Homo sapiens: one gene and its partners. The protein of the gene in region 1 interacts with the protein of each later gene in a pairwise test. Each region holds a gene or a part of one and is shown in the gene's direction. Other genes may lie near its edges. The genes, in order: ARRB1, PKM, MAPK9, EDNRA, TCOF1, PPM1B and POU2F1.

Region 1 (4,118 bases):
AATTGTTGAGCCTAGATGGTGGGTATATGGGTGCCCAAATAGCTTCATTTATGGTTTATGTGTAGCTATAATTTTTTCTTTTTAAAATGTGTTTAGAGACAGGGCTGGTGCTCACGCCTATAATCCCAGCACTTGGGGAGGCTGAGGCAGGCAGATCACTTGAGGTCAGGAGTTTGAGACCATCCTGGCCAACATGGCAAAACCTCATCTCTACTAAAAATACAAAAATTAGTCGGGCATGGTGGCGCGCCCCTGTGATCCCAGCTACTTGGGAGGCTGAGGTAGGAGAACTGCTTCAACCTGGGAGGTGGAGGTTCCAGTGAGCCAGGATCGCACTACTGTACTCTAGCCTGGGCGACAGAGCAAGACTCTGTCTCAAAAAAATAAAATAAAATAAAATAAAATAAAATAAAATAAATTTAAATTAAATTTGTTTAGAGACAGAGTTTCACTCTGTTGCCCAGGCTGGAGTGCAGTGGTATGATCATGGCTCACTACAGCCAGCCTCGAACTCCTGGGCTCAAGTGATCCTCCTGCCTCAGCCTCCCAAGTAGCTAGGACTACAGGTGTGCACCACCATATCAGGCTAATGTTTAAAATTTTTTGTAGCGATGGGGTCTTGCTATGTTGCCCAGGCTGGTCTCAAACTCCTAGCCTCAAGCAATCCTCCTGTCAGCCTCTCAAGTTGCTGGGATTACAGGCATGAGCAACTGTGCCTGCTGTGGCTGTACTTTTTTTTTTTTTTTTTTTGAGATGGAGTCTTGCTCTGTCACCCAGGCTGGAGTGCAGTGGAGCAATCTCGGCTCACTGTAAGCTCCACCTCCCAGGTTCATGCCATTCTCCTGGCTCAGCCTCCTGAGTAGCTGGAACTACAGGCGTCCACCACCATGCCCGGCTAATTTTTTTGTATTTTTAGTAGAGACGGGGTTTCACCTTGTTAGCCAGGATGGTCTCCAACTCCTGACCTCGTGATCTACCCGCCTCGGCCTCCCAAAATGCTGGGATTACAGGCGTGAGCCACTGCACCCGGCTGGCTGTAATTCTTTAAATAAATGTGCTTTTTAGCACTGTGCTGCTTGACTAGGATAATCTTTTAGAATATCCGAGATTCAGTCCTGTTTGTGCGTAGAATGTAGATGTGCCTCTTTTGAGTGGCAGTGGTCTCCTTGCCCGAGCTGGGCTGGCCCAAGTGGTCCGTGTGTCTGGGGGACAGAGGTTGGGAGAGGGAGACTTGGAGCAGGCTCAGACTAGATATTCTGCTGGGCTGGAGATCAGGGCTGGGGTTGGCTCTGGGGAGGGCCATCTCCACAGCTGCTTCCTTTCTTCCCAGTGACACTGTGGCACCCAGCTCGACGTTCTGCAAGGTCTACACACTGACCCCCTTCCTAGCCAATAACCGAGAGAAGCGGGGCCTCGCCTTGGACGGGAAGCTCAAGCACGAAGACACGAACTTGGCCTCTAGCACCCTGTGAGGACCTGCCCTCCTAGCCCTGGGCTCCTAGTGCATCTTGCCTGATGGGGCCACACCCTCCTTGGTCCCCCCAGTTCAAAGACAAGGCTCAGGCTACCCTCTCCATAGCCTTGTCAGGGCCTGTCCTCAGGTGCTTGACTTGTCAGGGAAGCTGCCTCCTTACTCCCAACCCTACCCAGGGGTGACTGAGAGAATAAGATGGACCACTAGGCCAGCTCACTCAGGCAGTGCTGGGCTCTGCTACCATGCCTGGGGGAGGGCAACCTGGGAAGGCTTCCTGCAAGAGGTGGCAGCTTCTGACGTAATGCCTTCAGTCAGATGGGGTGTCCCTGAGGAGAGACCAGGGTGGTGAGCTGGGTTAGACCCAACATGGGGTGCCCCTCCAAGTCAGGGGTCCCAGGGCATCTGGTCACTCCTGCTGCACAGTCATCGTGGACGCCTCTAGGCTACTCTGCTCCAGCAGAGCCCTGGCTATGGGGATGCCATCTTGCCCTCTTGCCAGTGTGGTCCTTCAGTGGGGCTTTGGCCTACGTCTAGAGCAGCCGCCACTCCCAGCACAGACTCAGCTCTCTTCAGCAGCCCCTGCACAGCCTCCCACTTACCTGAAGCTTTTTGCCCTGTCTCCACCCTGGCTCACACCCTACCCATCTTCAAGACCCAGCTGAAGCACCACCTCTGCGGAGAAGTCCTTCTCTGATGGCCCCCACCCCACCCCACCCCAGCTGCCTCGCCCTCTGTGAACTCCCCGTGTGGCCCTTTCTGCCCATGGGTTGCTGAGAGAAGCAGAATCCATCTGAGGGGAGGAGGAGCCTGGCCCTCATGGCGGGGACGCTGGCCTGGGCAGGGAGAGGGGCTCAGCAGGGCCACACAGTGAGCGAGTCTCACAGTCAGACTTGGAACCGGGGCTCTGGGTCCCTGCTACCTAAGGGCACTGCTCGCCTTCCTCATCTCCACTGGGCTCTATTGGACATGGTAGCTGAGTGGCTAGCCAGATGGGGGATGGACGGCCACTGCCCCCCAGCATACCCACCCCTGAGGTGTCTCGCCCACCTGGCAAGGCCCCTGAACTGGCTCCCCTGTGTCACTTTGCAGGTTGAGGGAAGGTGCCAACCGTGAGATCCTGGGGATCATTGTTTCCTACAAAGTGAAAGTGAAGCTGGTGGTGTCTCGGGGCGGGTGAGTGCTCCAGCCAAGCCCAAGACCCCGGAGTGCAGAGGGGAGCGTCCCAGGTGCCCACAGGCCCCTGCCCCATTCTGCCTGTTTGCAGCCCTTTTAGCTGCATCCACCTTGGAGGAGGAACCTCCTGTCCCTTCTTTTCCTCCCTTCTGTTCCTCTTTCTCCCCCGCCCGCTTTCCCTCTCTTCCTTCCTTGGCCCTCAGCCCCTCTCTTACCCCCACCCATCTCTTTCTCTCTCTCCTCCTCCTCTATCCTAGGTCTGGGCTCGCACTGAGGATTGGCCATGCCCAGGGGACGGCGTCCTCAGAGTCTTTGCTGTGGGGTCCCCAGGGGTGCCATCTCCTTATCACACTTTGGGCATAGCACCCACCCCCATGCATGCCCAAGCTGATTTTCTGAGGAAACAGCTAAAAGGGCTCAGAACCCAGAGCTGGATTGGGGATTTGCTAGTCAGCTTTCCCATTTTACAGATGGTGAAACAGAGGCCCAGACAGTGCCCCAAACATTGCCTGAAATCTCCTCTCCTAACTCAGGTCATAGTGGTGGACCAGACTGCCCTGCCCTGGAGCATAGTTTGGTGGAAGCTCAGGGAGAAAAACAAACAAACAAACTACTGTGTTTCTTTTTTGTAACTTAATTCATAAATTTCTATGAAAAGATTGAAAAGCTAAATCCCATTAGACATTGGGTCTCCTTGATTATTAGAAGAATGCCTCTTGGCAGGTGGCAGTATGTAATCCTGACCTTATATAATAGGACATCTCAAAATTACAAATCCCAAATCCTGTGTCTGGTGACCTTTCAGGACCCACAGTCCCTCAAACATTCTTGGCAACCCCGGAGTCCTTCCCTCTGCCTTTAGATAGTCCGGCCTCCCTTGGGACAGGCAGCACTGGGGTTAATTTTTACACTGCCTTGACAGATGAGGATCCTGGGGCTCAGGGGTTTGCTGAGCTGGGTCTGGATCCCAGTCCCTCGGGGCAGGGCTAATGCCATTTCGGTGTATCCCTGAAAGAGCAGTCAGGGCTGTGCAGGGGGGTGGGTGGGAGTGTGTCCCGTGGGTCTTCTCTATCCGGGGGACAGCAGAAGTGGTGAATGAATGTGCTTTTTGTTTTCTTCCTCTCTGAACTCTCTCCTGACCACTTCTCCTGCCTCCTCTGACCCACCCAGCCTGTTGGGAGATCTTGCATCCAGGTAAATTCCTCCCTTCCACCTGGTTCACCCACCTTCCTGGAGGGCCTGGAGCCCATTGGCTTGACTGACCAGAATCACAGGGCACTGGGTTGGAAGGAATCTTAGTGGTCATTTCAGATAGCCAGGTTCAGGTGTGAGCTGGGAGACACAATTTCTCCTTAACAAACCTCACCTTGCTCTTCCATCCCACCTGAGTGACAGGGATCTTTACAGAGAGCAAAGCCTGATTACACTGATACAGGGAGTGGCCCCCAAGAGAGCTGTCTGAATTACTGAT
Region 2 (4,118 bases), on another chromosome or scaffold:
AGCCTTATCCAAACACAAGTCCTAGGCTTTTTGCCCTGTTTATGAGCTTTATATGCTGAGGGTATTTGATGAGTCTTAGGGAAAAAAGAACAGCCCTGGGGACACAGCTGCTTTTATGATGAGACATGTTTGCACCCATACCTTAATGGGTTTTGGTGGCAATATTCTGAAATTTGCCACCTACATTTCAAAGATTTGCCCTTTGGGTGAATTAGTGCTGTAGTAGAAGTGGGTGGAGGCTGAGGAGGTTGGATTAAGCAGGTAGAGGATTTCTCAGTGCATGGATCGTGCTGAGGATGGAGATAGAGCTCTAAGACATCCACGGGCCTTTCCTGAGTGATCAGCTTTGGCTCCTGGGCAGGGGAATTGGAGCTGGATTCTAGTGTGGGAGCACGCTTGTCATCTTCCTTCTTTTCCCCCAGTACCATGCGGAGACCATCAAGAATGTGCGCACAGCCACGGAAAGCTTTGCTTCTGACCCCATCCTCTACCGGCCCGTTGCTGTGGCTCTAGACACTAAAGGACCTGAGATCCGAACTGGGCTCATCAAGGGCGTGAGTATTCTGCGGAGAGCGAGGGGAAGGCTCAGTAGGCAATATGCCCCAGAGACATGTCCTCCAAAGCGCTGGGTTGCCATGTTTCTTCCCAGTACTATGAAGGACTGCAGAGGAGTTGAGGTCTACAAATGAGGATTTATTCATCACTGTAAACAATGTTGATTTGATCTACTTTGCTAGGAAATGGTACCACAAAGGAACCTTTTTTTTTTACCCTAAAAACCTAAACTTTAGGCTTTCTAACTTGGAGAACCATCTCTTTGTATCTTTTTCCCCATCATTAAGTAGCATAACTGAAACATATTCTTTTCTTGGATTATTTCCGTGAAGTATACAGAGTTAGAGAATAAGAGCAAAAAACTGTATTACTTTTAGCAGTGACTTGAGCATTGTTCCCGGGAGGAAAGAGCTTTTCCATTCCTTCTGAGGTGATGCTGCTACTGGTGTCTCCAGTTTGGACTCTTGCTTACTCTCTTGTCCCTAGAGCGGCACTGCAGAGGTGGAGCTGAAGAAGGGAGCCACTCTCAAAATCACGCTGGATAACGCCTACATGGAAAAGTGTGACGAGAACATCCTGTGGCTGGACTACAAGAACATCTGCAAGGTGGTGGAAGTGGGCAGCAAGATCTACGTGGATGATGGGCTTATTTCTCTCCAGGTGAAGCAGAAAGGTACGTATGGGAGCTGGAGTCCAGTTGTCTAAAACAGTCTTTTGTCTCTAAACTTCCTTGACACAAGGAAGATGGGAAGGTTGGTTGCCTGGCAGTGAGATTGAGTCTGTGTGTTCTCAGGAATCCCTTTTATAACTCATTTATCCTCAAAGATAGGCTTTAATCCAGCATAGTTACATTCTTCTGGTTCTGGAGAACACAGGAACATACATACATATATATATATATATACATATATATATATATATATATATATATATATATATATATATATATTTGTTTCGCTGTGTTTTGTTTTGTTTTCAAGACAGAGTCTCGCTCTGTTGCCCAGGCTGGAGTGCAGTGGCATGATCTTGGCTCACTGCAACCTCTGCCTCCAGAGTTCTAGCTATTCTCCTACCTCAGCCTCCTGAGTAGCTGGGATTACAGGCACCCGCCACCACACCCGGCTAATTTTTTTGTATTTTTAGTAGAGATGGCGTTTTGCCATGTTGGCCAGGCTGGTCTCAAACTCCTGACCTCAGGTGATCTGCCTGCCTTGGCCTCCCAAAGTCAGAACAGTCTTAATTATCCTTATTTATGGGTGAGGAAAGTGAGGTACAGAGAGGTTAAATGGCTTGCCCAGGATTACACAGTGTAGTAGGTTTTCAACTCTGGTAAAACAGCTCCAGCACCCATAATGCACCACTTCCCAGCTCACTGTCCTTGCGGGAAAGGTGCCTGCTTCCTGTTGACCTGTGCCCTCGTGCTCTGCCTCCCCTACTTACCCTTTTTCATACAGGTGCCGACTTCCTGGTGACGGAGGTGGAAAATGGTGGCTCCTTGGGCAGCAAGAAGGGTGTGAACCTTCCTGGGGCTGCTGTGGACTTGCCTGCTGTGTCGGAGAAGGACATCCAGGATCTGAAGTTTGGGGTCGAGCAGGATGTTGATATGGTGTTTGCGTCATTCATCCGCAAGGCATCTGATGTCCATGAAGTTAGGAAGGTCCTGGGAGAGAAGGGAAAGAACATCAAGATTATCAGCAAAATCGAGAATCATGAGGGGGTTCGGAGGCAAGTCCCCGTTGTCCCTGCTCCAGTCCCAGCGCAGCTCTCCGAAGGGCATGGTCCATCCTGTGAATGTCTGATTCCCAGCCCCTAGCCCATCAGAATGTAGACTCCCAAGCCAGTTCCAAACCTGCTGAATCAGAATATCTTAGGAGAGTAGAAGGCATTATGTTTTTTTGTTTTTGTTTTTTTGTTTTTTTTAAAAAAAAGCTTCCCAGGTAATTGAGATGCTGGCAGCTTGACATTGTTCCCTGGGCCTGGGGACCAACATTTGAGAGAACAGGGTCACTGCTCACAGGACCAGGGGCCATGATGTTCTGTTCCTGATCAGAAACACTACCAGTGTTTGCTGGAATGGGGGGACCAGGGGGAAAGATGACAGCAGACACTTAAGAAAGGGCTCTTTTTGGCCCTTCCTGGGGAGCCATGTGGAATTTCAGGGCCTGGTGTCCATGTTAAAGCTTATGGCCTCCTGGTCTTCACTTAGAATGCAGCTGGCTCAGTGATCATGCTAACTCTGGTATGGTCCATTCCACTCTCAGAGGAAGATGTGTGGTTCTTCTCCAGTTTCAGATTGCCCCAACTTAGCTTACCCCCTCCCCAATGCTCACAAAGTAGAGCCCAGTGGGCATGGCCACCATTTTTGGCATCCTGCTAGGAATACAACTCAGCACAACTAAGATGCTAGACACACTCTTGTGGATTAGAAGTGTGTTTGGGGAGGGTGGGGGAGCAACCCTGTGCACCCACTGTAGTGGCCTTACTGTCTGAGCTTTGTGTAGATATCCTCTGTACCAGGCAATTTGGGGTCCTCCCCTTTGCCATCCTGATAAGCCATAGGCTAGCTGAACTTGGCCCTAGGCCAGGCAAAGCCACATTCCCTCTTGCCTTCAGCAGGTTGGAGTGGGCCACCTCAAAGGGCAGTCCTCAAGTGTCCTTGACTAGATGAGGCCATGGGTCTTTGTGGTGGAAGCAGTCATCAGGCCTCAGGTTCCCTGTCTTGAAGTGCTGATTGGAAAATGGAGGCCCTAGAGAGACCCCTAACATGCATGGGATTTGGAGAGGAGACCTTGGGAATGAGCCCATTTGGATTTGCCCTCTCCCCTTTCTTCCGTCAATGAAGCATCCATATTGGTGTTGAAGCCCAGCAGGCAGAATTGTTGGCCCACTCTGGGGGCCTAAGGTAGCTGGACTGCCTTGCCATCTGTGTGCACCCATGATGATATCATGGATGTCTGTCCTGGTACAAGGACATCTAAGTTAGGGAATCCCAGGGAAACTTCTTGTCTACTGCCATACTTGTGGCCTCTGTTCTATATAACCTCTCTCCCCCCAACTTTGTCCATCAGGTTTGATGAAATCCTGGAGGCCAGTGATGGGATCATGGTGGCTCGTGGTGATCTAGGCATTGAGATTCCTGCAGAGAAGGTCTTCCTTGCTCAGAAGATGATGATTGGACGGTGCAACCGAGCTGGGAAGCCTGTCATCTGTGCTACTCAGGCATGTGCCCACCCTTCCCCACATTCTCATGTGCACACTCGCATGTTTGTATGGGAAAGCTCTGGAGGCTGTCTGATCTCTTCCCATGGAATTGTCGCACGTAACACACAGATAATCCCCTTCCCCCATGTACCTACACAAAGCCATACTCTGTGTACCTACTCACTATCCAGAGGATCAGCTTGCTGTCATTTGTCTCTGAAGACAGCTCAAGCTACATCTCACTAATGCTCTGTCCCCTCCCAGATGCTGGAGAGCATGATCAAGAAGCCCCGCCCCACTCGGGCTGAAGGCAGTGATGTGGCCAATGCAGTCCTGGATGGAGCCGACTGCATCATGCTGTC
Region 3 (4,118 bases), on another chromosome or scaffold:
TACATGGCCACATATATGTTTAGCTACTGAGAAAAAAAGAAGAATCTTGCAAGGAAAGACATAGGAATATGGGACTCTTGGCCCAAAGAAAGACTCAAGGAAAAGTTCAGAAAGTCCAGCTGACTGACTTCTTGTCTATACTCATAGTTAGGATTGGGAAACTGCAAAAGGACAGAGCCGAGAAATGGCCTGCAGTCTCGCTGCCTGGATTTGCAGCAATGTCGTGCCTCAGATTTTATTATATTTGGTTTTCTTAGCACAGATGCAGCAGTAAGTAGCAACGCCACTCCTTCTCAGTCTTCATCGATCAATGACATTTCATCCATGTCCACTGAGCAGACGCTGGCCTCAGACACAGACAGCAGTCTTGATGCCTCGACGGGACCCCTTGAAGGCTGTCGATGATAGGTTAGAAATAGCAAACCTGTCAGCATTGAAGGAACTCTCACCTCCGTGGGCCTGAAATGCTTGGGAGTTGATGGAACCAAATAGAAAAACTCCATGTTCTGCATGTAAGAAACACAATGCCTTGCCCTACTCAGACCTGATAGGATTGCCTGCTTAGATGATAAAATGAGGCAGAATATGTCTGAAGAAAAAAATTGCAAGCCACACTTCTAGAGATTTTGTTCAAGATCATTTCAGGTGAGCAGTTAGAGTAGGTGAATTTGTTTCAAATTGTACTAGTGACAGTTTCTCATCATCTGTAACTGTTGAGATGTATGTGCATGTGACCACAAATGCTTGCTTGGACTTGCCCATCTAGCACTTTGGAAATCAGTATTTAAATGCCAAATAATCTTCCAGGTAGTGCTGCTTCTGAAGTTATCTCTTAATCCTCTTAAGTAATTTGGTGTCTGTCCAGAAAAAGTCGATTTATGTGTATTAATTGGCCATCATGATGTTATCATATCTTATTCCCTTTTATGCTATGATTTATTCTATCTTTTGTATTTCAGAAGACATATAATTAAATCTATTTAATAAATAAAAATATATAGCTTTTCTTAGATTTGTGATGTTTGGGGCTGAGAATTATCACGGCTAAAACCAAGACACTTATGTGGACATCTTGTTTTCTTTAAACTGTCTTGTCTGGGATGATTGTACATTCAGCTTTACTGCACGATACAATTTTAAGTTTTGCTTAGTGCTGCTTGAAATCCTAGCTACCTTATCTCTTTTCTTCTTGGTCTTCTAGACTTCTTATGAATTTAAAATGCTACCTAGAACTTCACCTTCTTTATTAGGTGCGTAACACTCCATCTTAATTAAATATGATGGCAGATAGGTTCCTGCATCCATGGCCTAACGTTGGAGTGGAATTTTACAAAATGCTCACTAGAGATCACTGCAGTCATTTCCTAAGTGCTTCCTTTGCCACAGACTGGCCTGGGTCCTTTATTTACCTTCCCTCATTCACTTTCCCTCGGCCAATACCACGTTCTTGATTTTCTTTCTTCACTGGAAGAAAGCAGATAAACTCCTCTTTGGTCTGTTTTCAGAGGCCAGGCTGATTCAGATGCCTGTTGCTATTGTTGCTCTCCATTGTTGGGAGGCATTCCTTTTCACAAGAATGTTCTGGGAAACTCTTCAGAGGACGTGAAGGAAATACCCTGAAGAGTCATGATTAACTATTGACTATTTTCTGATTTAAAACTGCTCACCTGAAATTGATACTTTTAGACTTTACGATCAGTAAATTATTCAGAATTCATGAAGATGCTGAGTATGTTAAGTGTCACTGCAGGAACGGAGCTGTGGTGATCACGTTTTGCCTGCCTGTGCCCATGTCTCTTCCCTTGAGCTTATTCTGTTGCTGATTCATATCTTGTGTTCAATTATTTTGGAAGCTTTTCAGTCGACATTCTGTAGAGTGTGTTCTGAGGAGGAACTGTGATAAGAAAGTTTATTATAAATATTATGTAAAATATATGGCTCTCTCTGCACCAGTTATATCTTATTGGTTGGTCATATCACTGGAAACTGGAACCTTTGATTAGCAAAATTAATATTGAAATAAGAAATAGTTCTTTTATATTGTGTCATTTGGACACTTTCAAGTACAAAATGGTAATAATAACTTGGATTGAGGCGGAAACACCTATTTTATGGCTATCTATCTAAACATCTTAAAATGGCCTTCTCTGTAATACACTTTCTTTTAAAAGACTTCACTAAATCTATCTTTAAAAGGAAAAACAAAAGGGAGAGGTTGAAAATGCGCGAGCTGCCCTGCACTGTGTGATGCTCCCTCCCCGGGAGACGTGGACGGGGGACGAGGCACCCGCAGACGCCCTTCTGCTCACTCGCTCCTCTGTGCATTCAGCGAGCCACTTGCCACAGATGGAGCCCGTGACGGTGTGGAGGGTTTCCTGGAAAGGCCATCTTCCACCAGGTAGAGGCGAGCGTGCCTAGGACAGGCCACAGGGCTCCACAGAAATACCTCACCCCAGCTTCAGGGTTCTCTCTCCTGAGCCTAGATTTGCCAGGGTCTTGGTGCCACGCAAATGGTTTCAAACTGATCTCTATGGATAAATGCTGATGTTGGTTAAAGAACTGAAAAATGTGCTCAACTGTTTCATCTTTTCTATTTTATTTTTGTAATTTATATTGTACACAACCCAGGAAGTAACTATTTTGGACATGTATTTTTATAAACCAGGTAATTTACTATTATCCTGGAATTTAGACTAGGTTTGTTTCATTTGTTGACTTAGTTTCCAGCCAAGAAGGAAACGACTGTCTCCCCCATGTCCAGGTCTCAGTTTCAAGGGCAGAGTCCAGAGAGCAGACAGAGTTCTGTGAGAGCAGGAGAGCAGTCTGGAAACCCTGGCTGTGCATACCGTGTCAGCCGTGGGCCTGGAGATGGGAGCAGGTGAGACGCAGAGCCCCAGTACTGAGAGGAGGAAGCCCTCTTACAGGGCCCCTTGCCCACCCCAAGTCCGTGTCTGAAACACGGAGCGGGTGCTGCTTCAACCCGCATTTAATGCTGTGTAAGTAGCGATAACCACGTACGAGTCTGTCTGGTTGATTTCTAATGTGACTCCTCTGGTATTTCCTCCTGGTAATAAATACAAGTGTGACCTTTCAGATTGCATATCTCAAAAGTAACATTGCTAATGTTTTATAATAAAATATATTATGTGTGTTTTGGTTGGTGAAAATAATACAGACTACATTTTAAAAGATAAATGTATAGCATGTCCAATTTTTGTGTGTTTTTACATGGCAATTAGATATTTCTCCATCACCATCTCTGATGACAGATTTAACATGAACACAGATAGATGATAAAGTGTCATGCTTTTGATCAATATTAGCAAGAGGTTTCACACTGAGAGGCAGAAACATTGCTGTTTGTTCTCTTATTGAAAATATTCTGCAAATTCCTAAATCTGTGTTTTCAAAACTAATGGCAGTAAGTTTTGACTTCACCAATATGCAGGTCCAATTCAGAGTATTGGTGTAATTGTTTTCTCATGAGGCGTGGCCAGGAGAATTCACCAGTCAGCCTTAGTCATGTTACTTAACGTCATTCATGGTGCTTGTGGCTTTGTGCCTGGGATGAGCCAAGTTCATCTGACGTCTGTGTTTGAAGCACTTCAGGCTGTTTAGTACTTAATACCACAGGAGTGGAAGGACACTCAGTGGCTCACTTTCTTTTCTCTGCTTAAAAGGACTAGAAGCATTCCAGAGAGATGAGTACCAGCTGTGTGTGTGTGTGTGTGTGTGTGTGTGTGTGTGTGTTTAAGACGGAGTCTCACTCTGTCTCCCAGGCTGGAGTGCAGTGGCACTATCTCGGCTCACTGCAAGCTCCGCCTCCCGGGTTCACGCCATTCTCCTGCCTCAGCCTCCGGAGTAGCTGGGACTACAGGTGCCCGCCACCACACCCGGCTAATTTTTTGTATTTTTAGTAGAGATGGGGTTTCACCGTGTTAGCCAGGATGGTCTCGATCTCCTGACCTCGTGATCCGCCTGCCTCGGCGTCCCAAAGTGCTGGGATTACAGGCGTGAGCCGCCGCGCCCGGCCCAGTTGTGTTTTCAAAGGTCTTGAAAGAAGGAAGATGTTTCTTGAGATACTGGGGTCTGGGTCTGGGTTCCATTTCTCTGTCCTA
Region 4 (4,691 bases), on another chromosome or scaffold:
GCTGATTCTCCCTCCTAGAGAAGCTGTAAGATTAGTGAACAGGGTAATATCTAGTCTAACCCTACTAGATGACTATTAAGGCCTCTTTCAATGGTGGTTTTCTGTAGATCTCTTTGATGGTTTTACAAAATGGTCCCTAAATTCTTTGACACTCCTCACACTAAGGGTTGGGCTCTATATACCCTCACCTTCAATCTGGGATTTGTGACTGCTTGACTAATAGAATCAAGCAGAAATGACACGGTGCCAGTTTCTGGGCCCAGCCCTTAAGAAACTGGCAGCTTCCACTTTCTGTCTCTGGGGACATTCACTCTTGGATCCCCGCCACCATGCTGTGAGGAAGCCCAAACCACAAGTCTCCACAAGTCTTTGTGGAGAGACGCACGTGGAGAAAAACTAACACTCAACACCAAGCAAGTGAACTGTCTTGGAAGTGGATCCTCCAGCCCCTGCTACATGGAGCAAAAACGAGCTGTCCCAGACAGGCTCTGCCCAAACTGCAGACTGATAAGCAGAGTAAATGAGTGTTGTTATTTTAAGCCACTACGTTTTATAGTAATTTGTTTAGCTGCAGCAGATAGCCGGAACAGCATGGGATATAACATGACCAGTGCTCCAACCTCACACTTCTACCATGTGCTGACTCTAGCAGTGCACTGAAGGACTCCAAGGCAGGCCTTCCCTGAGGAGACCCCAGTTTTTACTCACATGTCACAGGCAGTGGCCTTTGTCCCTCATCTCCTCTCCCACCCCCAATTTAGGATAAAGTATCTGCCGTGATAAAGACGTTGAGACCCACTTTCTGTAAGGTCGGCTTCTTCATTGTTTGAATTTCTTGAGGTTTCACGGAGCCACGCGCTGGAACCTTCCATAGTCTCTCCTGAGGCTCCTTCTTTGCCCTGGGCTGGAGGTCTGTAGCCGTGGGATGCTGGCTACAAGGGACAAGATAGAAGCAAACCACCTGATCCAGTAAACTGCTGTCCACTTCGGCTCCTCAACGGCCTCTAAGCTTAAGAGGGAGCACGCAAGCCAAGCAAAGGCGGCAGGGAAGACGGAGAAGAAACCACCCGTGGGCCCTGGCTCTGTGTCCAGTTGTTCCGTCACAGATCAAATCTGCCTGCACTAAGAGGATGGGTTCCTCTGCAAGGCCTTTCGGAATTCTGAGTCTTGTCTGTCAAACTCTACCCTCTCTCCTCCACATCCCCCACCTTTTCTTTCAGGAAGGAAATAGTTAAAAAAGACTCCTGCCCTTCAGGGCCTGGAAGGGGGCGGCAGCTTTGTGCTTTTTAGTGGCCGCGTCCCAGGATAGCTGGAAGGTTAGGACGCTCTTGCGGTCCCAGAGTGGAGTGGAAGGTCTGGAGCTTTGGGAGGAGACGGGGAGGACAGACTGGAGGCGTGTTCCTCCGGAGTTTTCTTTTTCGTGCGAGCCCTCGCGCGCGCGTACAGTCATCCCGCTGGTCTGACGATTGTGGAGAGGCGGTGGAGAGGCTTCATCCATCCCACCCGGTCGTCGCCGGGGATTGGGGTCCCAGCGAGACCTCCCCGGGAGAAGCAGTGCCCAGGAGGTTTTCTGAAGCCGGGGAAGCTGTGCAGCCGAAGCCGCCGCCGCGCCGGAGCCCGGGACACCGGCCACCCTCCGCGCCACCCACCCTCGCCGGCTCCGGCTTCCTCTGGCCCAGGCGCCGCGCGGACCCGGCAGCTGTCTGCGCACGCCGAGCTCCACGGTCGGTGCAAGTCTTTCTTATCGGGGACTGGGACTGGGGCGGGTGCGGGGATGGCGGAGACGCTGCCTGGGCCCCTCGGTCGGGAGAAGACGAGAGCTGGGAACGTTCTGGCCCGACCGCCCTGCAGCTTGGGCGACCCGTCGCAGCAGGGGCTGGCACCCACTTGCCCCAGGGCGCGCGGGGAGGCGGGCGCCTTCCGTGAGGGGTGCGCTGCGGACACGTGTAGAGTTCGGGGAACTTCACCTCTCCACGTTAGGGTTTAGGATTCGGAGTTTTAGGAAGAGGAAGCCCAATAGTTTTCCCTGGGTGACCCCTTTTCCCCAGGCATGCAAGAACTTTGAGGAACGCCAAGCTCTGTGGCTTGCTCCAGCGCCTTCTTGTGAAGTTGGCTCCACAGCCTTTTCTTACTGGCTTGCTTTTCCTCCCCCACATCTGGGTCTGGGTATGCCAAGGGTAGCCAAGGGCACTCGGTGTGAGGGACTGAGGTGTTTGGGGAAACCCCCTGTGTAGCTAGTTTTGGAAACCTGCCTGTGGAGGTCTGGGCGTTTTGTTCTGTGCTCGCCTTTAAAGGACACTTGTTGCTTCTCACGTGCAGAAAACAAGGGCTGCTTCTAGATAATCACCCTCTGTTTACATCATCCTAATGGCTTTCCCCTGATAGAGTTGGGGGTGGGAGGCATATTAAACTCAGGCGTTGTCTCTAAGGAGAGTTGCTCATTTCTTAACCAGAGAGCAAAACCTCAGAAAACTTGTAAAAAGTTCCTACTTTTACTTGTTTTTTCCTCCACCTGTAGTTGTCTATGTGTTAGCTAATTGAGAAACACCTTGGCAGTCATTTCATGTAAATTGAATGCTCTAAACTCATGCCATTTTGATAAGGTCTGAATTTCCAAATTACCAATTACAGGTGAACTTTGATCCTGAGAGTCTCATATGTTAAATGGTTAAAGTGTAAGCGTAAGGATTCAGTCCTCTTTCTTAATAATAGTTTTTGCACTCCCCAAACTCTCAGATTCCAAACAGGAAGAATGCTGAATCTATAGACCATGTCCTTCAGGTCTGAACCTGAGATGCTTCACTAGCGCTATGACTGATTATGAGTGATGATTCAAAGCACAGCCTGACTCAGATTCCTGGAAATGAGCTACAGACCCACCTTGGAAGAACCTGCAGTTGAGGGGCTTCTTTCATTTGGTTTTGTACTTTTCAGCCAATGATAATATGACATCCACAGGCCTTTGCCAAGTATCCCTTAGTTTTGCAGCTTAACATGTGTGGAGAGCTGATAGAGAAGTCATCAGAAATGATTTCTGTAGTGGTGTCATTGTTGGAGGAGGAAGGAAGGGGGTTTTAATGATAGCTGGCTCTCATGCCTTAAGAACCCACAGCGTTGGCCTTACCTCCTGGCATAATCAGCTAACCAAGCAGACCAGCATGCTAACGTTCAAAGCACCACAGGACCTCTGATGAGTAGAGCAGTACCCACCGTAGCCAGGTCAGTTCACAGGTCAGTTCCCAGCCGACTGTAACCGGCAGAGAGCCATTCCATTTCTGCAAAGGCCTTCTCTCTCTCATTTTTAAGAAAGCTGTTATTGAAGGTTCCCTTTCATTTGGGAAGCTGGAAGACGTTAGTCACGAAACAGCACAAGATATGAAAGTATTTCTTCTCCCCCCTGTATCTGTGATCCAAAAAGGAGGATGACAAGAAGCTTTTCTCTTGGAGTCCTGGTGTTCCCTTTGGAATGGAAATGGTGTCATTTCATAGGTCTATCAATTTTTGGCCAGATACTCACTCCAGATTATAAGAAGCAGGAAAAAACTGCAAACTGTTTATAATTAAGTCTAGTCAGAGCTGACAAATACATGGCCTGCCTCTAGCCTTGAAAAATTGATATTTTTCCCATTTAATCAGAGTGAGTCAAGTCCTATAAGCAAAATTATGTGTCCTGCCATTTCTTGGCTTTGAAACCTTGACCTAAATACTTCTTCAAGACTCTGGTTTCCTTATAAGTAAAATGGAGATATTGCTCCTGCCTACCTAGAGTCGTAAAGCTCAAGGCAGATAACAGATACATATATAATAAGTTACTATATGTAAATACTATTATTATTTCAGAGTTCAGGGGGAAATCTCTGGGGAAGGCAAAAGTATCCAATACTCGCACTTTATATATACCCTATACTTTCTATGCAACTTGAATAAATCTTATTTTATCCACGTATTGGCCAAACCTAAGCTTTACTGATTTCCCAAGATAATTGTCAAAATTCCTAAAAGTGGTTAACATCAACCTTGAATACACTCAGAAAAAGGATTCAATTTTATTTTTTACTTTTTATTTATTTAATTTTTTTTTTTTTGAGACAGGGTCTCACTCTGCTGCTCAGGATGGAGTGCAGTGACTCGATCATAGCTCCCTGCAGCCTTAACCTCCTGGACTCAAGTGATTCTCCCATCTCAGCCTCCCAAGTAGCTGAGACTACAGGCACACGCCACCATGCCTGTCTAATCTTTTTTATGTTTTGTAAAGACAGGGTCTCACTAAGTTGCCCAGGCTAGTTTCAAACTCCTGGGCTCAAGTGATCCTCCTGCTTTGGCCTCCCAAAGTGCTGAGATTATAGACATGAGCCACCACACCCAACCAGGACTCAATTTTTTTAAGATTAAATTATGACCTGGGTATATACATCACAGACACGTACACACACCACCGCATAAATCAGATTATGTCTTCATTTGAAGATTCATAAAAGCCTACAGAAAAGGAAATATATAAAATATTGAAATAGGATGAGCTATTTTTAATTATCTTTGATTATTCCTTATTAAGGTCTCCTAGACTTCCTGGACAGGAAGGACCACTTGCTCTCTGCAAGTGACTTAAAAATAAATAAATAAATAAATAAACCACACCAGATGGTCTTTGAAAATGTCTAACCACCCTCCTGAGTCTATTGCTTCATCTA
Region 5 (4,118 bases), on another chromosome or scaffold:
ATTGTGCCTATACTGTGTTTTCACCACTGTTTAGATTCTATGCACATTGCCTTTAAGAGCTGGAAGGATGCGGGAAGGTCTGTCTAGTCAATTCTTGTGGAGTTGTTCTGTCACCCAGTTGGTATAGACAGTCACCCTTGTCCTGCAGAACCTCAGAGCTTGGTCGGAAGCGGAAGGCAGAGGAAGATGCGGCACTGCAAGCTAAGAAAACCCGTGTGTCAGACCCCATCAGCACCTCGGAGAGCTCGGAAGAGGAGGAAGAAGCAGAAGCCGAAACCGCCAAAGCCAGTAAGAGCCTTGCAGCTTTGGGAACAGGCTATGGAATATTGATTGTTCTAGGGTAGAGTCTACCTCCAGCTTCTTCTCTTATCACTAGAAGACCTAAAAGACCCTGGGGAGGAGATTGGGAGGGCACCACATATCTTTGGCAGTATTTGAGCCCTTCCTCCGTGCCAGGCATTATATCTCCATGCTCTGGGGGTGCAAGGCCGAACCAAAACAACCAGATGGGCCCTTCCAGTCTCATTTGGTGTATGGGGCCCAGGAGCTGCCCTATTACAGGCTCCCAGGTGATTCTTATTAGCTGGAAAGAAGACACACGTTCAGAAGTACTGCTGGAGGGATTTCAGAAAGCAGCTAGCGGACACATTTTCTGTGTGACCTGTGGGATGCTTTAGGAATTGCTGATCTTCATGTTCATTTAGAATTGTACCCATTAGCACTGGAACGCTGTACTGGGCACTGGTTTTACACCGTTTGCAGGAGTAACTCAGTCAAAGCTTTTATAGCCCCTTCTTCTCCTAAGGTCCCAGGGCTCCTTGTACTTTCCCCAACAGCAGCCATAACTCTACAGAGGAATTGCTGTGTCTCCTTTGCATCGTATTATCTTCTTTTGCTTACATAGAAGACACATTTCTTAATACTTATTTTTTATTTTTCAAGACAAAGTCTTGCCATGTTGTCCAGGCTGGTCTTGAACTCCTGAGCTCAAGTGATCCTCCTGCCTTAGCCTCTTGAGTAGGTGGAATTCCATGCACATACCACCATGCCCAGCTTCCTGAGTCTGCTTTTAAAGTGTTTGAGATCATACTAGGTATATATTTTATTATTTTTTTGAGACGGGGTTTCACTCTTGTCACCCAGGCTGGAGCACAATGGCGTGATGTCAGCTCAGGGCAACCCCCGCCTCCTGGGTTCAAGTGATTCTCCTGCCTCAGCCTCCCGAGTAGCTGGGACTACAGGCATGCACCACTACTGTCAGCTAATTTTGTGGGTTTTCTTTTTCTTTCTTTTTTTTTTTTTTTTTTTTAATAGAGACGGGGTTTCACAATGTTAGCCAGACTAGTCTCAGGTGATCCGCCCACCTTGGCCTCCAAAAGGGCTGGGATTACAGGCATGAGCCACTGCGCCCTGGATATATATTATATATCGCTTAATTTTACATTATAAATGCAAAACGAGTTCACTTTGAACTGTAGAAGAGCATATAGAAGAAAACTTAAAGGTTTTTTGTTGTCCTACCCTGTTCCCTATCATTCCTAAGTGCATCTCCTCATAGGTAACCTTTAAAACTTCCTCCTTTGCCTCTATATTCATTCAAACATGTATTCTTACATGCATATATACAGACCTGCATGCTATTTGAAACACAAATGGTAAAATTTCTTACTGATTGGCTATTTGGTATTAATCAATTTTATAAGCTGTGATAATGGAGGTGTAATTACATTTTTTTGTTTGTTTGTTTGGGGCTTTTTTTGATATGAGGTCTTGCCATGTTGCCTAGACTGGCCTTGAACTCCTGGCCTCAAGTGATCCTCCTGCCTCAGCCTCCGGGTATGTAATTTTATTTTTTTAAAAGTCTTCACTGGGTTGGGCATGGTGGCTCACACCCACCGGTAATCCCAGCACTTTGGGAGGTCAAGGTAGAAGGATCACTTGAGCCCAGGAGTTGGAGACCCGCCTGGGCAACATGGCAAAACCCTGTATCTACAAAAAATTTAAAATTTAGCCAGGCATGGTGGCGTGTGCTTGTAGTTTCAGCTGCCTAGGAGGCCTGAGGTGGGAGGATTACTTGAGCCCAGGAGGTCAAGGCTACAGTGAGCCATGACTGTGCCTGCACTCCAGCCTGGGCAACAGAGCAAGACTGTCTCAAAAAAAAAAAAAAAAGGAAGAAGAGTCCTCGTTGGCATCCTGGGCAACATAGTGAGACTCCGTCTCTGCAAAAAATAAGAAAATTAGCTGGGCATGGTGGCATGCACTGGTGGTCCCAGCTACTCAGGAGGCTGAGATAGGAGAATCATGTGAGTCCAGGCATTGGAGGTTGCAGTGAGCTATGAATGTGCCACTGTACTCCAGCCTGGGCAGCAGAGCAAGACCCTGTCTCAAAAAAAATTTAAAAACGCATCCTCATTGAGAGAGAAACATGCTGAAGTATTTGTGGGCAACGTGGTAGGATCTATGGCATTTTCTTCAAAGTAATGCTTGATGGGGAAGGGTGAGTGAGATAATACATGAGATGAAAAGATTGGTCACAAGTTGTTAATGGTTGGAGCTGCCTGGTTCTTCCTTTCTATTTACTACTTAAAAATTTTCCATAATTACAGAAAGAGAGAGATGGAGTGAAGTGCCAGGAAAAGAATTAGATCATGCCATTCATCTCAGCAACATTCTTCTTTTTTTTTTTTTTTTTTTTTTTTTTGAGACGGAGTCTCGCTCTGTCGCCCAGGTCGGACTGCGGACTGCAGTGGCGCAATCTCGGCTCACTGCAAGCTCCGCTTCCCGGGTTCACGCCATTCTCCTGCCTCAGCCTCCCGAGTAGCTGGGACTACAGGCGCCCGCCACCGCGCCCGGCTAATTTTTTGTATTTTTAGTAGAGACGGGGTTTCACCTTGTTAGCCAGGATGGTCTCGATCTCCTGACCTCATGATCCACCCGCCTCGGCCTCCCAAAGTGCTGGGATTACAGGCGTGAGGCCACCGCGCCCGGCCCAACATTCTTCTTAACAAAAAGAAATCTGAGATTTAAGGAGACAATACCCTGGTATAAAAGCACTGAGAAGCTGGGTGCGGTGGCTCATGCCTGTAATCCCAGCACTTTGGGAGGCCGAGGTGGGCAGATCACGAGGTCAGGAGATCAAGACCATCCTAGCTAACACGGTGAAACCCCGTCTCTATTAAAAATACAAAAAATTAGCCAGGCATGGTGGTGGACGTCTGTAGTCCCAGCTACTCAGGAGGCTGAGGCAGGAGAATAGTGTGAACCCAGGAGGCGGAGCTTGCAGTGAGCCGAGATTGTGCCACTGCACTCCAGCCTGGGCGACAGAGCAGGACTCTGTCCCAGTAAATAAATAAGCACTGAGAATCAGTGAATATCGATATCTAACGGGGCCCAGGTGGCATGGTTCAGCCACCTCTCCACTAAGAAGCCATTTGAATTCCAGGCAACTTTCTCTGTGGACCTGAGGCTGGCTGCCTGCCTGACCACTGCCCCTTCTTGCCGAACAGCTTTCAGGGCTACAGTGTGGTGGCCTGTGTGAATGGTGCCCATTGCAGTGTGCAGTGCCCAGTAGGCAGCAAGAATGTGGGCCAGTCCTTTTCCCTCCAGGGGCCTCCACGTCTCATGCTGCGGGGGAGTTGGGAATCCATCAAGGATGCAGACACATAGCTTCATGTTACCATCCTCTTCTCTCTTGCTCCTGGTGGACCTGGCTGATGCATCACAGAGCTCATTCCTGCAAGTCTGGGCTCAGCCTCAGATCCTCATGCCAGCACCAGGCAGCCAATACCAATAGAATTGTTAGGTGAGATGAAACCTGTTTGCCATTCATAGATGAGAAAAGCTCATCTGGCTCCTTTAGCAGATGTTTGTTTCTTGCAGCCCCAAGACTAGCATCTACCAACTCCTCAGTCCTGGGGGCGGACTTGCCATCAAGCATGAAAGAAAAAGCCAAGGTGAGTGGGACTGCCTTCCAAGCTATTGCCTATGGGATTTAAGGTGCCTGGTAGGGGACAGTCTTACATGTCAGAGAAGGATAGGGTTGTGAGTAATTGCCCCACCTGGATTCAGAGCTCAACCTGTGTCACCAGTTGTGGGATCTTAGTCCCTTCACCTCTCTG
Region 6 (4,118 bases), on another chromosome or scaffold:
ACATTTTTTATGGAATCTTTTGAATTAAAATATGATGCTGATTATGTCTTGGCAGTCTTGGAAGCTTAGAATTGGCCACGGTATCACTTAGTGATTGTGGTGATTCATTAAAAAGAGGCTATATAGGCCAGGTGCGGTGGCTCATGCCTGTAATCTCAGCACTTTGGGAGGCTGAGGCGTGTGGATCACTTGAGGTTAGGAGTTCATGACCAGCCTGGCCAACATGGTGAAACACCATCTCTACTGAAAATACAAAAATTAGCCAGGTGCGGTGGCGCGTGCTTGTAATCCCAGCTACTCAGGAGGATGAGGCAGGAGAATCACTTGGACTCACGAGGTGGAGGTTGCAGTGAGCCGAGATTGTGCCACTGCACTCTAGCCTGGGTGCCAGAGTAAGACTCTGTCTCAAAAAAAAAAAAAAAAAAAAAAAGCTGTATTTCATGAATATTTTTATATGTAACTATTTTAAAGTATTTTGTGACATTACCTAGCATAGAAAGTAGTTAAGTAGTATAATTCTAACTCTCGCTTTTAAAAATGCAACATACAGTATTTTATATTTTCTGTGAAATATGCCTTTCACAATTCACTGATTTTAGTAAAAATTAGCAAACAAATAACTGGTGGCATCAGAATAATAAAAGTTTGTTTAATCCAAAATTATAATAGCAAAATTTATTCAAGTAATAGCATAAAATGTGAAATCATGATTATGGTAAGATAATTTTCAGGAGTATGATATTCCTGAATTTTCAGTTATTCTTCACACTGTACCTGATTTCTTTTTGTTTTTCCCTTGCTGAATTAATTTCAGAATTGGAATGAAATGGAATACTGCTATTATATTAGCAGCTTTAAAGTTTTATTGTAAAATGTATCGTATATTAGCAGAATTGATGGTTAAGTGTACTGACATTTCACTATGCTATACTCAAACATTGATGGTGAAATAGAGTTTTGGGAACTATTTAATTTTTGTAGTTTGTAGTTGGCTGTCATAAAATTTGCAGAATGACAGAACTGATCATCAGCTTCTAGTGGCTGATCTAACAAGAACAGGTGAAGAAAAAGGTACATGAGCTTCATAATGTGTATTTTTTCTTTGTTTTTGTTGGTGTTTACTTACATCAATACATTGAGTTAAAAAAATGGGTTTTCATCTTTTGGATTAATTTAAGTATGCTAAAGCCATTTTAGAATCTTTACAAGTAAAATGTTTCTAGGCCGGGCACAGTGGCTCACTCCTGTCCCAACATTTTGGGAGGCTGAGGCAGATGGATTGTTTGAGACCAGCCTGGGCAACATAGCAAGACCCTGTCTCTACAAAAAATAAAGTTAGCTGGGCTTGGTGGTGTGTGCACCTGTAGTTAGCTGCTTGGGAGGCTGAGGTGGGAGGATCGCTTGAGCCAGGGAGGTCAAAGCTGCAGCGAGCTGTGATTGCACCAGTTTGCTCCAGCCTGGATGACAGAGTGAAACCACGCCTCTATTTTTTAAAAAATTCTGATGTGACTTAATCTCTTTGTGTCCATTTGATTTGAGATGATTGACACTTTTGAACATTTCCATCCATATTCCTTTTCTTAAAGACTACCTAGAAGACTAACAAGCGTGGCCAGGCGTGGTGGCTCACGCCCATAATCCCAGCACTTTGGGAAGCCAAGGCAGGCAGATCACTTGAGAACAGCCTGGCCTGGCCAACGTGGTAAAACCCAGTCCCTACTAAAAATACAGAATTTAGCCAGGTGTACTGGCCGGCCAAAAAAGACTAACAGACCAGATACTGGAATCAGCGTTATGGTGAAAAGAACCCTTTACTAAATTCTTGATGATGTTACAAAATTTTCCAAAAGTGTAATCTATATAGTGTATTTATTTCTCAGAGTATTTAAAGATTTTGAGATTTAGTTTTTAGTAACATATAACATCCTAGGAAACATAAATACTGTACAATAACTTATATACTTTTTTTCTTTTTAGTTTTCTTTTTTCATTTCTTTTTTGCCCCTCGAGATCTCATACTTCGTAGTTTTCCTTCAAATTACAGGGTGCTTTATTTCTCCCCTTTGGTTTAACTTTAATAACAACCATAAACACTTTACTTCTGAATTAATGGTAAACCATGACACAGAAGAGTGCTTAAATACATTTTTTTCTTTTTGTTTTACTATAACTAATCACATCTACAATATCTTGTTATTGCTTGGCATAACATATACCTTTTATAATAATACTCTTCATGGCCGGGCACAGTGGCTCATGCCTGTAATCCCAGTACTTTGGGAGCCCGAGGTTGGTGAATCACTTGAGGTCAGGAGTTCGAGACTAGCCTGGCCAACATGATGAAACCCTGTCTTTACCAAAAAATACAAAAATTAGCCGGGTGTGGTGGCACATGCCTGTAGTCCCAGCTACCCCGGAGGCTGTGGTGGAGAATTGCTTGTACCCGAGAGGTGAAGGTTGTAGTAAGCCAAGATCACGCCACTGCACTCCAGATTGGGCGAAAGAGTGAGACCCTGTCTCGAAACAAAAATAATAATACTCTTTGTAATAACTTGTTTAACCTCAAGAACCTTGTAGCTTAATCAATTGTAGTATTTTAATTTGTTAGTTCATATATTATACATTTGACATGGTTTATAACATTTAAAACACACTTTACTAATTTAAAACTTTTGATTTATCACACAGTTTAATATTAACTTGTAAATATAAAATGGATTCAAACTTTTCTCTTGGAGAATGTTTAAGTATCATCAGTATTCTATTTTTTAGCTTTAAATTGATTCATTTCTTGAAAATTAAAAATCTTAAAGTTTAGAAACATAACACTTCTTGGAAAATTGTTTTGCATCCTTGTGAACAAAAGAAGATCCAGTTAAATCCGATCTCATACTTAGAGGAGACAGACAAACTTTGGAAGCCATGTATTGACTATTAAGGAACTTGTCTTTCTCTTAGAGATGGTACCAATTACTGGTAGTGATATAGGGAGGATAAGACTTGTCTCTAGGATTGCTGTGATTATTGTCTACGTAGAATGGCCTTCACTTCAGAATCAGTTGTGAATGAAAAGTACATTTGTGTGCTAGAAATAGGAAAAAACCTTGTCTTTTATAGAAAACTTTTAAAATGCAGTTATGTTATCAGGTAGATTCAAACGTATAATATACAAGAAAATAAAACAAATGAATAAGTGTTGTTTGCCAGAGAAGAAGCAGTTCTGATCAATAATATGTAGAGTAATTTGTAAGAGTTTGAAGGCTTGCGAAGCGCTTTTAAGCCTGAGAGTAATGTCAACTCATTTTTAAATCTAATCGCATTTTATTTTCTTGATTGTAGGTATCAAGAGCACTCCTCGCATTGAAAAGGGCTGGTTACTGGATGTTCTTATGAGTAGGAGAATCTAGAAGTGTCAGCATGGGTGTTTAACCTATTTGGGCAGTGTTTTTCCTTTTCCTTGTTCTGACTAAAGCATTTATCTCTGAGGTGGGGAAATGGCATTTTCTGTTGAACACAGGTGGCCTTTCTTAGTCCCTTAAAAAGAGGACATGACTGGGCCTGGTGGCTCACGCCTATAATCCTAGCACTTTGGGAGGCCGAGGTGGGCGGATTGTCTGAGCTCAGGAGTTCGAGACCAGCCTGGCAGCACGGTGAAACCCCATCTCTACTAAAATACAGAAAATTAGCTGGGTGTGGCGGCATGTGCCTGTAATCCTAGCTACTCAGGAGGCTGAGACAGGAGAATCGCTTGAACCCAGGAGGTGGAGGTTCAACCCAGCTGAAATCGCGCCACTGCATTCCAGCCTGGGCAAAAGTGAGACTCCGTCTCAAAAAAAACAAAAGTGGGGGTGGGGGAACATAATTAATTCAAAGCACTCCAAATGTTAAGATTATATAGGAGATTTTGTTGAGCTTTGGGAGGCTTTCTGCTTTTATTTACTCTGAGCTACCAACCCACTGAGAAGTAAAGAATTCAGAACAGTCTAATAGTATTTAGTCTGTAACCCTCCAGCCAATTCTTATGTTCACTGAGTGCCTTCTGTGTGCAAAGGCCCCCATTTCATGCCAGTATCTGAACAAAACAGACAAAATCCCAAATCCTTGTCGTTGACGATCTT
Region 7 (4,118 bases), on another chromosome or scaffold:
TAGTCGAGGGAAGTATTAGAGGAGTGGGGTTTAACACTAATGTGTTAAACCTTTGAAATTATGTTAAGACATTTTGGTGAGTGGCTAGCTATGTATTTTGTGGGACTTTGGTCTTCAGTTTAATTTGTAACAAAATTCTAGGTTTGATGGATTAAACGCAAGCTAATTTCAGATAACCAGTTCTCACCATTTTTCTTCTTTCACTCACAGTAGGCAGGCCCTGAATGCAGCAGGAAAAAAAAAAATCTGTAGCTTTTAAGAGAACCTTCAGGTGAATGACTGCTTCAGAGACCTGAAGTATGAGGTCAGATGGACAAAAAGCAGCAATATAATTTCATGCCTTAAATAGCATATGTTTTTGCACCCGATTCCCAAGATGTGGTCAAACTGATGATGTCATTGGACAGAGGACAAGGTGCAGTTAATTTGATTTATTGTCCTGAGGTGAAGTGTAGCAGTGAAGCCTTCTCATAGGGAAACCATTTATTTCGGGTCAATTTCCTTTATAGCTGCAATTTAATCACTACTGAGGCCGTAGATATTTTATACAAAATGATAAAATGTACATTGGATTTTACAAGCAAAATTTCGCTGTTACAGTTTTTGTAATACAGAAAAGGATGGATGTTGTTAACTGGCCTTATATTTTGGTTCACTTTTAATGCTATTGTAAAAATTCATTTCCTCAAAATTCTCAAATGGAGTATTTGGGTTTTAGATAGATAGTCATAGAAGTGACCCATATAAATGTTTGTTGTGATCCCCCAGACTTTTATAAGAAACTGTGTTTCTTAATCAGAGCATGGCTTAGGCTAATGGAGAGACCATTTGCCTTAGAATCCATTTCAGTGAATAAAGCAGAGTTGAGAATGAGGGCTGTGTATTCTTTAAGGTGGAAATGATAATGTTGAAAATAAGGTAGAATACTCACAGGAAAGCATGTGCTTTTAAAACAGATTTTTTAAAAAAAATTCAGAATTCTTTTTGGATTTATCTTAGTCTGGACAAGTTTGTTCATTTTGTTTTGATTAGTGATTTTAAAATTGTTCCATTGCAACAGTGATTGCACTTAGAATTTTTGACATATTAATAGATTTTCTTGTAAGACATTTCTCATATTTTTAATTATTAGTTTATTTTAAGGTGATGATTAAAATTCCCTGAGAATGTGATAAAATTGCTTTATTTCTAACCTGAATTTGTGATCCAATTTTGATAGAGTATTTTAGGTTACTTTTGAACCCACATGAGTTTATAACCTGCCTGTCTCCTTTTGCATCTGTCAAGTAGTTTCCTGCGTATTTCTAGGAAATCCATTGTCACTGTCTTCTTTTTTTTTTTTTTTTTTTTCCAGACAGAGTCTTGCTCTGTCTCCCAGGCTGGAGTGCGTTGGTGCGATCTCGGCTCACTGCAACCTCTGCCTCGTGGGTTCCAGTGATTCTCCTGCCTCAGCCTCCTTAGTAGCTGGGACTACAGGCATGCGCCATGACGCCCGGCTAATTTTTGTATTTTTTGTAGAGGCGGGGTTTCACCGTGTTGGCCAGGCTGGTCTCGAACTCCTGACCTCAAGGGATCCACCCGCCTCGGCTTTCCAAAGTGCTGGATTACAGGCGTGAGCCACCATGCCCAGCCCGTTGTCACTTTCTTAACTCTCCCACCTATTAATTACAATGATACTTTTGAATCAAGGTCTTGAAAATTCATGTGACAGCTGACCAACTGTTTTTGATTTCTAAAGGACTGTTCTGCTTCCAAACCATTACCGTAAAAGCAATTTTTAACCTCTTCCCTCAAATTAGTTTGTAATTCCTTTCATTTTGTCATTGTCAAAAATCCCAGTAGACAAGGAAAAAACAAACCGTAGCTATTATTCAGGTTCAAATGAATTCAGGTGTAGTGTTCTGCCATATTTTAAATTTACTATTCTCTACATCAATAGGTAGTATAAAGCAGTGTAAATAAAATATGTTTCATTGCTGCCTAGTTTGAAGTAATTGTCAATCTGCCATTCATCTGGTTAGTGGATTTTGCAATAAGTTCAGGGCTCAAAATGTTACGTTGCTCTTCTCAAGCCACCAAAGATGTTTAATAGACCCTTGAATATCTTAGGCAGGTGGTTCTGAAATAACAGAAGTGGAAATTTGAATGTTATCTTTAAGTATTTTCTATTAAAAATTGAAATATTTGACCTGCTTCTTGAATCTGTATTGCTTCATCTTGAATTTATTTGTGTTTTTTAAGTTGGTCACTCATTTTCATGAATGTTTCCTTTGTACTTGGAAGACTGTAATATTATGTAGTAGTGATTGCCTTGTTGTTATCGGTTATTTTTGTTTTGTTTTTTAATTTTGAAACCCCATAGTTGTAATCTTTGCATATTAGTCTTTCAAGCACCATTAAAAATAATGTTGTGTGACTCATTAATTTGCCTTTATATAATTGTGTTAATTACACAGTTTTTGTGATTAGTAAAGACTTGCTATGAAGCCTGATTTTAAGCAGGAATGTGTTTTTCCTAATGAAAGTGATTGCATTTGAATTTAGAACTATTCAGGTAATTTGCGTTTAGGGAACAGACCAAGTCACAAACAAAACATGCCCCCTTTTGGTTATCCATGTTCTTGTTTCTGATCCCTCCTTAAATGCTAAATGCCTGAGCAAATGTACTTACTATTTCTTGGGCGTTAGAGTTGAAAGTTGTTGATTTGATTCAGTGACATATCTGCTTTGAATTTCTGTACCCTTTCTGCATGAATTTTTTCCTTTTCCTTTTTTTGGGGTAACTTTGAGTCACCATTTTGCTTACTTCTTACTGTGTTGCTTAAAGGATGTAAATATCCTTTTGAGTGGTTGAAAGGGATAATAATTAAGGTTCACAGAGAATAGCAGTTTCCTTATGCATCTTTCGCTGGACATTTTTGTGCATTATTGACATTTCATAAGTAAAGAGAATTGAATAACTGTAGATTTTAATTCTTCTTAGGAATAAATTGGTTTGTTTTGTACCGAAGTATTTCTGTGTTCTAAACAGGTGATGAGCTCTTATAAACTGTTTCAGCAGTAATAACAATGGAAACAAAAATAGCCTGAGTAGAGCTATTGCCTGACTTACTTGATCCGTTTACAGTATGTTTAGAATTTGGAATATGAGAATTGTCTTGAGTTTCAGAAGTTCTGATTTGAAGATGCTCCTTGCATACAGTGCATGTGGTTATGGGGTTCTGTGTGTTTTTACTATGGGGTGTGAATTTTTTGAGCATTGGTATCTTTGTATACTCAGTGACTAATAGAGCTCTTTTGTTTTTGGGTTTTATTTATTTATTTATTTATTTCCAATTAAGCAAGCACTCAAGATTTCAGTGTTGCCTACATTTGCTGACAGGACTAGTAATTGAGCAAAAGAAGAATCAGCAAACCTCTAGATTTATCAGATTATCTTTTATTCATTTATTTTCTCTTATTTTTAATTTTTTTTAAGAGATGGGGTCTTGCTATGTTGCCTAGGCTAGTCTAAAACTCCTGGGCTTAAGCAGTCCTACTGTGGCCTCCCCAAGTGCTGGGACTACAGGCATGAGCTACCACACCTGGCCCAGATTTCTTTTAAACTGCTGGAACTCCTGGACATTTATCCGGAGAGGATACATTATACTAACTTTTTTTTAACAGCCAATGTTCACATTCCACAAAGCTAAGTGTTTGTAGTAGCTTTACTAAGTCTTCAATATTGAAAGTCATAGCAAGTGCAGTTTATCACATTATTTATTTCATAATTCTTTGTAACTTTATGCTTTTTATGTTGGAATATAGAAATGGTATATGAAATTAAATCAATAATAATAATTATTATGGCAGGTTTCCCCCCCTCTGTTGAACTTTCTCTTTGCAATAGAAGATATAAACAGGAATGGCTGGAAAATGAACAATATGCTGTGTGTTAAACGACTCATTTGTGCTTAAACATATGATTACCTTAATGGAGTTGCACTGATACCTTAAAGGGAATATATTTTTATATGGAAAAGTGACTTAGGTGTTTTCTTGTTTTAGTACACTTATTTTAGTGGTCTGCTTAATGAAAAATACAGCCTTTTTTGGCTGATTCATACTGCAGCAAGCAA

What was found.
Region 2: the proteins of ARRB1 (region 1) and PKM interact in binary tests that used the Homo sapiens proteins (3 or more experiments, as listed by UniProt).
Region 3: the proteins of ARRB1 (region 1) and MAPK9 interact in binary tests that used the Homo sapiens proteins (3 or more experiments, as listed by UniProt).
Region 4: the proteins of ARRB1 (region 1) and EDNRA interact in binary tests that used the Homo sapiens proteins (3 or more experiments, as listed by UniProt).
Region 5: the proteins of ARRB1 (region 1) and TCOF1 interact in binary tests that used the Homo sapiens proteins (3 or more experiments, as listed by UniProt).
Region 6: the proteins of ARRB1 (region 1) and PPM1B interact in binary tests that used the Homo sapiens proteins (3 or more experiments, as listed by UniProt).
Region 7: the proteins of ARRB1 (region 1) and POU2F1 interact in binary tests that used the Homo sapiens proteins (3 or more experiments, as listed by UniProt).

Annotation. Positions count from the first base shown.
Region 1 is NC_000011.10:75,271,424-75,275,541, reverse strand, and holds part of ARRB1 (beta-arrestin-1), read left to right. Parts: intron 1-1,330; coding exon 1,331-1,468; intron 1,469-2,563; coding exon 2,564-2,647; intron 2,648-3,817; coding exon 3,818-3,841; intron 3,842-4,118. UniProt on the Homo sapiens protein: Functions in regulating agonist-mediated G-protein coupled receptor (GPCR) signaling by mediating both receptor desensitization and resensitization processes.
Region 2 is NC_000015.10:72,206,783-72,210,900, reverse strand, and holds part of PKM (pyruvate kinase PKM), read left to right. Parts: intron 1-422; coding exon 423-554; intron 555-1,041; coding exon 1,042-1,228; intron 1,229-2,009; coding exon 2,010-2,280; intron 2,281-3,623; coding exon 3,624-3,774; intron 3,775-4,020; coding exon 4,021-4,118. UniProt on the Homo sapiens protein: Catalyzes the final rate-limiting step of glycolysis by mediating the transfer of a phosphoryl group from phosphoenolpyruvate (PEP) to ADP, generating ATP.
Region 3 is NC_000005.10:180,232,671-180,236,788, reverse strand, and holds the end of MAPK9 (mitogen-activated protein kinase 9), read left to right. Parts: intron 1-257; coding exon of another isoform or gene 258-262; coding exon 263-405; 3' UTR 406-3,646; downstream 3,647-4,118. UniProt on the Homo sapiens protein: Serine/threonine-protein kinase involved in various processes such as cell proliferation, differentiation, migration, transformation and programmed cell death.
Region 4 is NC_000004.12:147,479,653-147,484,343, forward strand, and holds the start of EDNRA (endothelin-1 receptor isoform a precursor), read left to right. Parts: upstream 1-1,444; 5' UTR 1,445-1,724; intron 1,725-4,691. UniProt on the Homo sapiens protein: Receptor for endothelin-1. Mediates its action by association with G proteins that activate a phosphatidylinositol-calcium second messenger system. The rank order of binding affinities for ET-A is: ET1 > ET2 >> ET3.
Region 5 is NC_000005.10:150,363,965-150,368,082, forward strand, and holds part of TCOF1 (treacle protein), read left to right. Parts: intron 1-148; coding exon 149-288; intron 289-3,879; coding exon 3,880-3,953; intron 3,954-4,118.
Region 6 is NC_000002.12:44,171,423-44,175,540, forward strand, and holds part of PPM1B (protein phosphatase 1B), read left to right. Parts: intron 1-4,118.
Region 7 is NC_000001.11:167,223,496-167,227,613, forward strand, and holds part of POU2F1 (POU domain, class 2, transcription factor 1), read left to right. Parts: intron 1-4,118. UniProt on the Homo sapiens protein: Transcription factor that binds to the octamer motif (5'-ATTTGCAT-3') and activates the promoters of the genes for some small nuclear RNAs (snRNA) and of genes such as those for histone H2B and immunoglobulins.